Linked DNA regions of Homo sapiens: region 2 is linked to region 1. Evidence: fine-mapped expression QTL. A gene starts in region 1. The other region holds a variant in brackets. All regions are shown on one strand. Distances are between the middles of the regions. Region 1 holds the start of LCAT (lecithin-cholesterol acyltransferase). Region 2 overlaps EDC4 (enhancer of mRNA decapping 4).

What was found. PIP is the estimated chance that this variant, and not a neighbour inherited with it, causes the effect. A credible set is the group of variants that fine-mapping cannot tell apart.
Region 2: its variant is the best candidate, but not a certain one, in a credible set for the expression of LCAT in tibial artery (GTEx, PIP 0.85).

Annotation. Positions count from the first base shown.
Region 1 is chr16:67,941,413-67,946,775 of GRCh38, reverse strand. It overlaps LCAT (lecithin-cholesterol acyltransferase), which reads left to right and starts at 2,656. Exons shown (of 6, transcript NM_000229.2): 1 at 2,656-2,828; 2 at 3,564-3,720; 3 at 3,800-3,915; 4 at 4,010-4,105; 5 at 4,189-4,413. The coding sequence starts at 2,675. It overlaps SLC12A4 (solute carrier family 12 member 4), which reads left to right. Exons shown (of 24, transcript NM_005072.5): 18 at 143-338; 19 at 436-605; 20 at 694-825; 21 at 905-1,012; 22 at 1,223-1,407; 23 at 1,556-1,689; 24 at 1,845-3,302. The coding sequence ends at 1,936. RefSeq lists enhancers at 3,525-4,424, 4,408-4,457.
Region 2 is chr16:67,874,949-67,880,311 of GRCh38, reverse strand. It overlaps EDC4 (enhancer of mRNA decapping 4), which reads right to left. Exons shown (of 29, transcript NM_014329.5): 2 at 4,211-4,367; 3 at 3,713-3,824; 4 at 3,340-3,439; 5 at 2,906-3,095; 6 at 2,656-2,803; 7 at 2,467-2,571; 8 at 2,037-2,146; 9 at 1,869-1,952; 10 at 1,681-1,776; 11 at 1,473-1,575; 12 at 1,175-1,355; 13 at 1,003-1,075; 14 at 809-900; 15 at 538-725; 2 more. Among named protein-coding and RNA genes, the nearest start is that of EDC4, 4.6 kb to the right of the region's middle. The variant A/G (reference allele first, on the strand shown) is at 2,698.

The DNA of each region.
Region 1 (5,363 bases):
AAACTTGGCCTCTGGGTAGGCAGCTTGTTGCCCCCAGGCCCTCCTCCACCCAAAAGTCGTTTTGTTCCCGAGGGGCCTTGGGAGGGAGCCCAGAGGCAGGAAGCTGATGGCCTCCCATTGGCCCTGGGTGTGTTCCCCACAGACCATCAAGAACATGATGGAAATTGAGAAGGTGAAGGGCTTCTGCCAGGTGGTGGTGGCCAGCAAGGTGCGGGAGGGGCTGGCCCACCTCATCCAGTCCTGTGGCCTGGGAGGCATGCGGCATAACTCCGTGGTGCTGGGCTGGCCCTACGGCTGGCGACAGAGCGAGGACCCCCGTGCCTGGAAGACCTTCATTGGTGTGTGAAGGCCTGGGGCCTGGTGGGCAGGGGTGAAGTGAGGTGGCAGTGGGCGGAGGGCCACAGACTGGTGGTCAGCCGTGCTCCTCCTCCCCAGACACCGTGCGCTGCACTACGGCTGCCCACCTGGCCCTGCTCGTGCCCAAGAACATCGCCTTCTACCCCAGCAACCACGAGCGCTACCTGGAGGGCCACATAGACGTGTGGTGGATCGTGCACGATGGTGGCATGCTCATGCTTCTGCCCTTCCTGCTGCGCCAGCATAAGGTAGACCAGGGGGTGGGTGCAGATGAGAGGGGCTAGGCCCTTGGAGGAGCAGCTGTGACCAAACCGCCCACCTGGTCCCTTGCCTCAGGTCTGGAGGAAGTGCCGGATGCGCATCTTCACAGTGGCCCAGATGGATGACAACAGCATCCAGATGAAGAAGGACCTGGCTGTCTTTCTGTACCATCTGCGCCTTGAGGCCGAGGTGGAGGTGGTGGAGATGGTGAGCCCTCTGCCCTGCCCTGGCCCCGTGGATACCATGTCCCGTGCAGCTGGGTCCTCACGGCCAACCCTGTCCCCAGCATAACAGTGACATCTCTGCATACACCTACGAGCGGACGCTGATGATGGAGCAGCGGTCGCAGATGCTGCGGCAGATGAGACTGACCAAGACTGAGCGGGAGCGAGAAGTCAGTGCCCTTTGTGGTTCACGCCAGGGCGGGTGGCAGGGTCAGGCCTTTGGAGACCGCATCGGTGGGTGCGGAGGAATCAGAATGACTCACCGCAGCCCTACCCAAGCTAGTGCTCATTTCCCGGAGGCAAGGTGGTCACATTGGGCCAGACAGGCCCCATCCCCCTTTTCCTATGGGACCAAGGCTATCTCCTGCAATTGTCCTCAGGCCCAGCTGGTCAAGGATCGGCACTCGGCCCTGCGGCTGGAGAGCCTGTACTCGGACGAGGAAGATGAGTCTGCAGTGGGGGCTGACAAGATCCAGATGACGTGGACCAGGGACAAGTACATGACTGAGACCTGGGACCCCAGCCATGCCCCTGACAATTTCCGGGAGCTGGTGCACATTAAGCCGTGAGTGCAGCAAAAACAGCCCCAGCGGCACTGGAATCTAGGGGTGGAGGTGGGGTGGGGCAGACAAGTAGTGTTAGATGGGCCAGGGGTGGGGACCCTCCTTGCAGGATGGCTCATGGCGACCTGTGACTGGCTACACTACGTGTAGGGACCAATCCAATGTGCGGCGCATGCACACTGCTGTGAAGCTCAATGAAGTCATTGTCACGCGCTCCCACGACGCCCGCCTGGTTCTCCTAAACATGCCTGGCCCACCCAGGAACAGTGAGGGCGACGAGAACTGTATCCCTTTGTGGAGAGGCAGGCAGTTGGGAGGTGGATAGCATGGGAGGTCAAGCCAGCGGCTTCTCTCCTGGGCACCCCTGGGTGGGCATGGCCCAGGTGGCCCGGGTTGCCCGTTGATTCTGTTGTTGCCTCCTTGACTTGAGGCCCTGCAGACATGGAGTTCCTCGAGGTGCTGACCGAGGGCCTTGAGCGGGTGCTGTTGGTGCGCGGTGGTGGCCGTGAAGTCATCACCATCTACTCCTGAGCCCAGTGTCATCTTGTGGCCTGGAGTCGAGGTCTTGGCCAGGACATAACAAGCTGTGGTCTGGGGTAACAGCCTCTTCCCAGCACCCACCTGCCAGCCCTGCTTGCCTGGCCCTGTCCTGGACCCAGCTTTGCTAGGTCTCCTTGGAAACCAGGCCTGGGCCTCAAAATGGAGATGGATCCCAGGTCTTGTGGGACCCTGGGATGTTTGGGGACTTTACTATCTAGCACCCCAGTAGGCCTGTCCTGGCCAGAGAAGACTGGTAGGGGCCGAGTGGGGTTTGAAGGCAGCCGGCCCGGCCCAGCCCAGGAGCGCTATTTATTGCATATTTATTGTTTGGATGTCACCATCAGAGACGAAGGGAAGGGTAGCCAGGGAGGGAGTCCAGCCCAGCTGCCTGCAGGAAGATCTGGCTCAGTCTACTATGGGCAGGGCCCCCCACCAAGCTGAGCCGAATGGAGACAGCTGAGCTGAGGCCTGACTTTTTCAATAAAACATTGTGTAGTTCTGGGCCTCCTGCTGCCCCGGCTCTGTTTCCCCTGGCGCCAAGAGAAGAAGGCGGAACTGAACCCAGGCCCAGAGCCGGCTCCCTGAGGCTGTGCCCCTTTCCGGCAATCTCTGGCCACAACCCCCACTGGCCAGGCCGTCCCTCCCACTGGCCCTAGGGCCCCTCCCACTCCCACACCAGATAAGGACAGCCCAGTGCCGCTTTCTCTGGCAGTAGGCACCAGGGCTGGAATGGGGCCGCCCGGCTCCCCATGGCAGTGGGTGACGCTGCTGCTGGGGCTGCTGCTCCCTCCTGCCGCCCCCTTCTGGCTCCTCAATGTGCTCTTCCCCCCGCACACCACGCCCAAGGCTGAGCTCAGTAACCACACACGGCCCGTCATCCTCGGTAAGCCCCCACCAGGCCCCTGATGCACCACGCCAGACCCTGGGGAGCCTGGGCCCCAGCCCCTGGCAGCTGACCTGGCCAAAGCCCTTCTGCCCTGCATAAGCCCCGACATAAGTACCTGCCCTGGTGTGGGGAGGGGCCAAAAGCTTGTCCCTTAGAGGAATGACGTCCCTTCTCCCACCACACTGTGACTCTCAGTTGTCTAACCCAGGGGGGGCGGAGTGGGGGACGGGGTGTGCCTGAGGTCTTGGCTGGGGCATCACAAGCTGTGGTCAGTCACAGCCACACCAGACTCTGGGCCAAGCCCCACCACTCCTTCCTTGGCCCCCACCCACCAAGGACAAGATGCCCAGCCCAGGATCGGTGAGCAGGAGAGGCCCATCCATGCCCGGCCCCTATTAGGCCCAGCCCCCATGCCCCCAGACCTATCTGTTCCCACCTTGGACTTTGGCAATAAAGGAGCGCCAGACTGGGTGTTTGCTCTGCAGAGGCAGGGGTCAGCGGCCTTGGCCTCAGCACCTCAGCGCCTTCCCTTCCTCAGGGAAGCCTGGGCTTTGGCTACTGGGGGGACAGCAGGGAGAGGGGGTGTAAGCAGGGGAGGGTAAGTGTGCTTTGTACCTGGGGGTTGAGGGTATGGGAGGTGGGGGGTGGGTCTGGTCACTGCAGCATCTGGGGTGACGGGGGTAAGGGTCACGGGGGGAATCCAGAGTCCAGAGTGAGGGCTGCTGCTCACAGTGCCCGGCTGCCTGGGGAATCAGCTAGAAGCCAAGCTGGACAAACCAGATGTGGTGAACTGGATGTGCTACCGCAAGACAGAGGACTTCTTCACCATCTGGCTGGATCTCAACATGTTCCTACCCCTTGGGGTAGACTGCTGGATCGATAACACCAGGTACAGCCATGTGCTCCACCCTAGCCCCAACACGCTGCCCCTTGGCTACTGGCTGCTGAGTGGCACCCCCGCCCCGCAGGGTTGTCTACAACCGGAGCTCTGGGCTCGTGTCCAACGCCCCTGGTGTCCAGATCCGCGTCCCTGGCTTTGGCAAGACCTACTCTGTGGAGTACCTGGACAGCAGCAAGCTGGCAGGTTTGTGTCAGAGGGCAGGGCTGGGGCTCCAGGCCTGGGTGCTGGCCCACAGCAGGCATGGCCCAAGCCCCCGGTGCTGCTGGTCCCCCCACAGGGTACCTGCACACACTGGTGCAGAACCTGGTCAACAATGGCTACGTGCGGGACGAGACTGTGCGCGCCGCCCCCTATGACTGGCGGCTGGAGCCCGGTGAGTGTCTCTGCGGATGACCGGCTTGGGGTGGGGCAGGTGCCCCAGACCCCAGCTGCCCTGACCCCTTCCACCCGCTGCAGGCCAGCAGGAGGAGTACTACCGCAAGCTCGCAGGGCTGGTGGAGGAGATGCACGCTGCCTATGGGAAGCCTGTCTTCCTCATTGGCCACAGCCTCGGCTGTCTACACTTGCTCTATTTCCTGCTGCGCCAGCCCCAGGCCTGGAAGGACCGCTTTATTGATGGCTTCATCTCTCTTGGGGCTCCCTGGGGTGGCTCCATCAAGCCCATGCTGGTCTTGGCCTCAGGTGAGAAGGCCTCGAACACTTAGGTCCAGCGATGGGTGAGACCAAGCTGATCCTGGGCCTGCCTTCATTGCGGCTCCTGCTCACAGTGGCCTCTAGGGGTGCTATCTACCACTCCTGGGCTGGCATGCTTGCTGTCACTGGCCCCCAGAGCAGTGACCCTGGCCTGAGCAATTAGGGTGGCTCCTTCCAGAGTCTGTGTCAGTGATGGCAAAGGGGCAGTGAACACAGAAAGTGAATCCCAGCTATCTGCTCCCAGGGTTTGTTCTTGTAGCCCCAGAGCCTGCCTGCCCAGCCCTTGCCTGCCTTCCACTTGCTCGCAGGAGTGCCTTTGCCCAGGGATGTGCTTCACTGAGGATGGATCTGCCAGAGCTAGGGCCAGACCCCCCGAGGCCCCACCTGCTCTTCCCTAGGGAGTGGCACCAGGGCCCAGCACTGACACAGCTACCACCTACTCCCCACCCCCTGTACCCTGGGAGCTGGTCTGGAGAGAGAAACACAGTCTGGACAAGAGAAACGCTCATCAGACACCACCAATAAACATCAAACAGACACCATCTTGTTTCCCCCTTTCTGGAGCACAACTCTGTGGCCCCCATTGCTGCATAAGCCACACAAGGAGCAGAAAGACACATGCCCGAGGGAGGACAGCCAGCACCGCCCCCACCATCCCCACACATCCTGGGCCTCACCCACCATCCCCACACACCCTGGTCCTCAGGAAGCCCCGCCTACTTTTTTTTTTCTTTTTCAGACAGGGTCATTCTGTCGCCCAGGCTGGAGTGCAGTGGCGTGATCATAGCCGCAGTCTCAATCTCCCTGGCCCAAGCAATCCTCCTGCCTCAGCCTCCTGGTTAGCTGAGACTATAGGCACACAACACCACACCTAATTTATTTTTGTTTTTTAGTAGAGATGAGGTCTTGCTATGTTGCCCAGGCTGGTCTCAAACTCT
Region 2 (5,363 bases), 66 kb after region 1:
GATCAGCAGCAGGGGGCTGGGAGGAGCCCACCACCCACCTTCCCTGCTGCTGCCCACCTGCTCCCCACACTTCACACACACACCCAGTCACACACCTGGCCCGGCCCCTTGGGAGTCAGTTTGTCAGCTGGGGCTGGGAGCAGGCCAGGCAGGAGGCCACGCGGGCTTGCCTGAAGGCTGCCACTGCTGCTCATTGTCAGGCTGCCATCCAGCTGCAGCTTGGGGCTCAAGGTCAGCTCCTCAGGTGGCCTGGTGGGGGAAGGCTGAGGTGTCAGCAGCCAGAGCTTGGCATCATCTGGTACCAGCCCCTGCCATCCTCCATCTCTGACCCTTGCCTCACCTGGTCAAGGAGGGGTCCACAGCTGAGGTGCTGCTCATGGCAGACACAGCTGTAAGGGAGCTGCTGCTACTGCTGCTGCTGCTGCTGCTACCGCTGCTGCTGCTGCTGGGAGAGGCAGTGATCTGGGGAGATGCAGGAAATAAGACCTGTGGCCTGTGGCTGAGGCATTCCCAGGTCCCCCTACCCTGGGAGAGTACCTGCTGCAAGGAGGCGCTAGGTGTCATGAAGGCGTCAGGTGTCATCAACTTGGGCTTGGTCTCACTGCTCAGACTGAGGAAGTCGGCAGGTGCAGGCAGCTCCACGATTCGTCGGAGGTCAGGCTGGGAGCCGTGAGCGGCTGACCCCAGGCCCTCAGAGCCCAGTTCGGGCCGAGACTCTCCAAATGCTGCAGGGCAAGTTGCCACTTGAGTTAGATCTCAGACCCTGGTCAGTCCAACTTACCCTACCTCCCTCTCACGCCCTACTCACTGAAGTCCTCGTGGGCAGTGTGGGTGGGCAGTGGGGCCACCACATCAGGGTTCAGCTGTGGCTGGAAGCGGATCTGCACATCTTGCAGTGCCCTGCAGGAAAAGAAGGGGGAGAATAAAGTGCTCCAAGGGCAAGGGTCAGTAGAGTGGAGACAGACACAGACAGGACACTGGCGGGCCTCCCCACTCACTCACTTAGTATGCACACAAAAGAGCTTGATGAGCACACCGGCCGCAGACTCCATGGCACCGGCTCCATGGGTACCATCTGAAAGGACAGTGTGGATGATGAAGCCCCTGGCCCTCTCTGTGCCTCCACAACCCCCTAGATATATGGACACATAGCTCTGACCCTGAGGCAGCTCACCAGCACCCAGGCTGTCATTTTCCTCTTCGGCAGGCAGCACCTCAGTGTGCCGTAGCCGGCAGCGACTCACAACCTGGATACCAAAGCTCAGCACAGGGTGGGTGAGCAGGAACTCCGAGATGGAGCTGAAGCAGGCGTGGCCCTCCTCCTGGTTTTGCAGCAGCTCCATCACATAGAGGACCTGCACAGGCAGAACGTTCCTAGCTGAGCTCAGAGGCTAAGGGCTGTGATGCGCCACCTGCCCCCCGGCCTTCCTCTATAATCCCAACTCTGCCCAGGGTACCCCATGGCAGCCTACCTTCCGTTGCACATCGCTGAGAATCAGGTATTCTGCTGAGAGGTCCAAGCAAACCTTGAGGCTAGGGGGCACACTCACTGAGCTGAAGATATCTGGGGAGAAGCTAGAGAGCCACAAAGCAGAGTGAATGAGCCTGAGAACTGAAGGAAGCTACATTCCCAACCCTGCCGCCCCTGCCCAGTCCCCCAGCCTTCCAGCCACTGCTTACCGAATAGTCTGCAGGCAGGTCCAGGATACTGTACACCACATCTTTAACTCTCGGTTCTGGTCAGCACCAGTAATAAGGAACCTCCAGAAAGGGACACTGCAAGGCAACAAGGCAGTGAGTGACTGGCTGGGGCCCCTGCTGGGAGCCATGGTCCAGCCCACCACCCACTAGGCTGCCCACTCACTCACTCAGGGTCTTGTTTCTTATGGTTGTCACAGAACAGGAGGCAGGAGAGGGGCCGCCCATCATGAGGTTTCCACTCGTGCAGACACCTGCAGGTAGGCAGATGAGGGGCCTGAGTGAGTGGTCGGGTGGGCTACCTCGGGAGGATCCTGGTCCCTGAGGCCCTGCCTTACCTTGGCTCATCTTGCCCCTCAATGTAGATCTGCCAGAACTTGACATAGCCATCGTGGCTCGCAGTAGCCAGCACAGTCCCATCAGGAGAGAGGGCTCCTTCACTGAGGCACTAGAAAGAACCCAAAAAGCTTTGCTGACTAGAGGTGAGAACAAGCCCCTCCCAAGTGAGGATGGCAATGAGCTGGGCTGACTCACGGTGGGACTGGCATGCTTGTGTGACTGACTAAATGAACAGGGTTCCTAGAGAAGGCCAGACCTGCAGGGTGCTGCTAGATAAGGAGAAAGCTGCACAGGTGAGGGCCAATTTGAGCTCAGAGTCCCCACGGGCAGAATGCTAGTAAAGCTGCCCGGGCAGCTGTGGATATAGGGAACAGAAGATGGATATGAGGAAGTGGGGAGGGCAGGGGAGGCAGGCAGTCACAGGCTTACCGTGCTATGACCTTTTACCACAATGAAGCCCTGCTTGATCTGGCTAACATCCACAGGCCAGGTACTGTGGCTGGAGCGGAGCATGTCCAGGTCCCACACCTCAGCCTGGAAGGCACAGGGAGGTGAGTGTGCAGCCCAACCCCACACTATGGCTTCTCTGGCGCCTCTTCGCCATGTCAGCCCCCTCACCCGGTCTTCATGCAGCAGGGCCACTGTTGGGCTGCTCTCCTC[A/G]CAGCAGTCTTCGCTCTCCTCAGGGATGAAGGGGCACCAGATGATCCTGCGAAAGTGGTTCAGTGGCGTGCCCTCTGGCTGCCGAATATGGACCAAGATCTCTTCTCTGAGCAGGGTGTTAAGGGCTAGATAGATGAATGAAGAGGCGTGACACCCCAGCTCCGCCCACCCTTCTTCAGTCCCACCACCCACAGGAAGGAATGGATACTGAATTTTGCCATTAACCAGAGCCAAGCGCCACACGAACAGGTTGCCTGCCTCATCCAGGCAGGCCAGCTGTGGAGAGTTGAGGTGCGCGAAAGCCAGATCAGCCACACTGCCTGTGAAGCCCTTGAGCAAGGTCCGCTCCGAAGTGCTGACGCTGATCACCCGCACCATGGCAGAGCCATTGTTGGCAGCTGGAATCAGGAGAGCAGTGGACCATGAATACGTATCCAGGCTCAGGCAGTAGCAGAGAAGCGCTGCCCCACCTGTCTCCCTGCCACCACCAGAGTCTCAAGCTTGGTTTTCCCACCCAGCTCCCCAAGAGGCAGCATGGACAAACCTTCCATTGTACCCCTAAGGCCTGAGTGGCCTGATGTTGGAACTGGCTCTGTGGGACATCCAGCAGAACATTCCTTCCTCCTCACTGTCTTTACTCACCCCGAATGGCATAGGCCAAGAAGGAGTTAGACACAGCAATCAGGTTGCCATAGTAGTACTTCTGTTCCCAGTCATACTTGGCGACAGGCTGAATTTTCACCTGAGAACCCAGGGTGAGAAAAGTCATGGAACTTCCCCAGAGCCTAGGTGGCCCCCAACATCCCTGGGGATGGGAGAGGACACAGATGCAAGTCCAGCTACCCACTGTTACCTCCTGGAGCCAGACTCCCACAGAGGCTTGGCACCCAGCCCTGGCTTCCTGAAACTGGGAAAGTGTCAAGGTGGTCCCCATAGGAACTGGCAGCATGAGGGAGACTGGAAAGGCTGGGTGTGCCCCCGTACATTATATATGCCACAGCATCCCAGTACCTACCTTGTTGCTTCCCCGGGCCTTGCTTGAAATGCTAGAGTCACTGCTAGCCACAATCTCCACCTCCTTGGCCAAAATCCCAATGCAGGTGGAGCTATCATCTCCTGAGAGACAGCTGTGGGGAAGAGTGCAAAAACTTTGCCTCTTGTTCACCCAAAGGCTCAGCGGGCAGGGTTGGGAGGAAGCGAGGACATAGCCAGACTGGGGAAGGTATCTAGTCCAATGTCAGCTTCGCCTGGTCCACTGGCCCCAGACCCACAGCTCTGCTTGCTCATCTCCTTCCTTGGGAATGAGCCTACTTTCATTCTAAACCAGGTATCCAGGCCAAACCCCTGAGCTTGTCCTTGCCTCTCATCCTAGTGCAAGCTCAAGCTCCACCCCAGGTCATCTAGAGAGGAAGCAGCAGAGGCTGCTGGCCCCGCTCACTCCCCATCTCATGCCTTCAGCTAGCAGACACCCCAAATACACCATCACCACTATTGTCGTCTCCTAGGTACTCACATGACCTGCTTCTCTTGCAGGTTAATGGGTGGCATGGTCCGAAGACCAGTCTTGTTTGCTGAGGTACTATCACCTGAGCAGAGCGGGTCTGGGACCAGAAGTCCATTGAGGTCCCCATTGTAGGCACTGGATGGCCGTGGGCTCTCTGCACTGGGGCCTGGGGACAAAGAGGGTCATTCTGATAAGGTTGCTCGACCTGCCCACAAGCCTCTCCCCTTTCAGAGTTTCCTTCAAGAACTATGAGGTGCTCTAGGAACACTCAACTGAGCAAAGCATGTCCATGAGGAGGAGGGCCCTGTGTTCATCTCTCGTTCCATAAACACTGATGTAGGCAGGACCAAGGATGAGCATGAGGCTCTTCTACCTGGGGGAGGGGTACAAGCCATCAAGGACCCTTTGAGGGCAGTGAATACTCAGGTCTGGGTCACTACAGAAGAACTCTGTGGACTGAGTGAGGGCATAGGAGGGGTCAGGAAAGACTTTATACAGCAGTTAGTGTGACCAGAACACACAAACACAGGAAGGATGGAGTGAAAACAAAGCTACAGAGGCATCAGGTATGATGCCGTGGCACTTAGACTCTCCCTGTGGGCCATGAGAACCATAAAGAGTTTCAAAAGGGAAGGTGATGTGGTCAGTTCTGGCCAGTGGGAAGATTACTCTAAGATAGCATGCAGAATGGTTGAGAATCTGGGTGAGAGAGATCAAGGCCTAGACCAATGTAGTGTCAGAGTTTGGAGAGAAGATGGGCTCCTAAGGCATGGAAGGGCACTGGTAAGATGTGGAAGGGGCTGCCCCACACAGAAATGGCTCAGAAGAAGCTATCTTGGGCAAGTAAACACAGAAGGCAGGGACATAAAGGAGCTGGACCAAAAGGAGAGAAACTATGGGGCAGCGTGTGGAGTAAGGAAAGACAGCATTTCAGTTCTTTGCAACTGGCTGGGTTTCAAACACTCTCATAGGCTCAGACACCATTTCCAAAATCCCCAGGTGGCAAGGAGCCTAGGGCTCCACATTCAGAACATAGCAAGTTTCCAGTCACAACAGTCTTTGAATTATTTTGGCGCGATCTCGGCTCATGGCAACCTCTACCCCCTGGGTTCAAGGGATTCTCCTGCATCAGCCTCCCAAGTAGCTGGGATTACAGCTCACC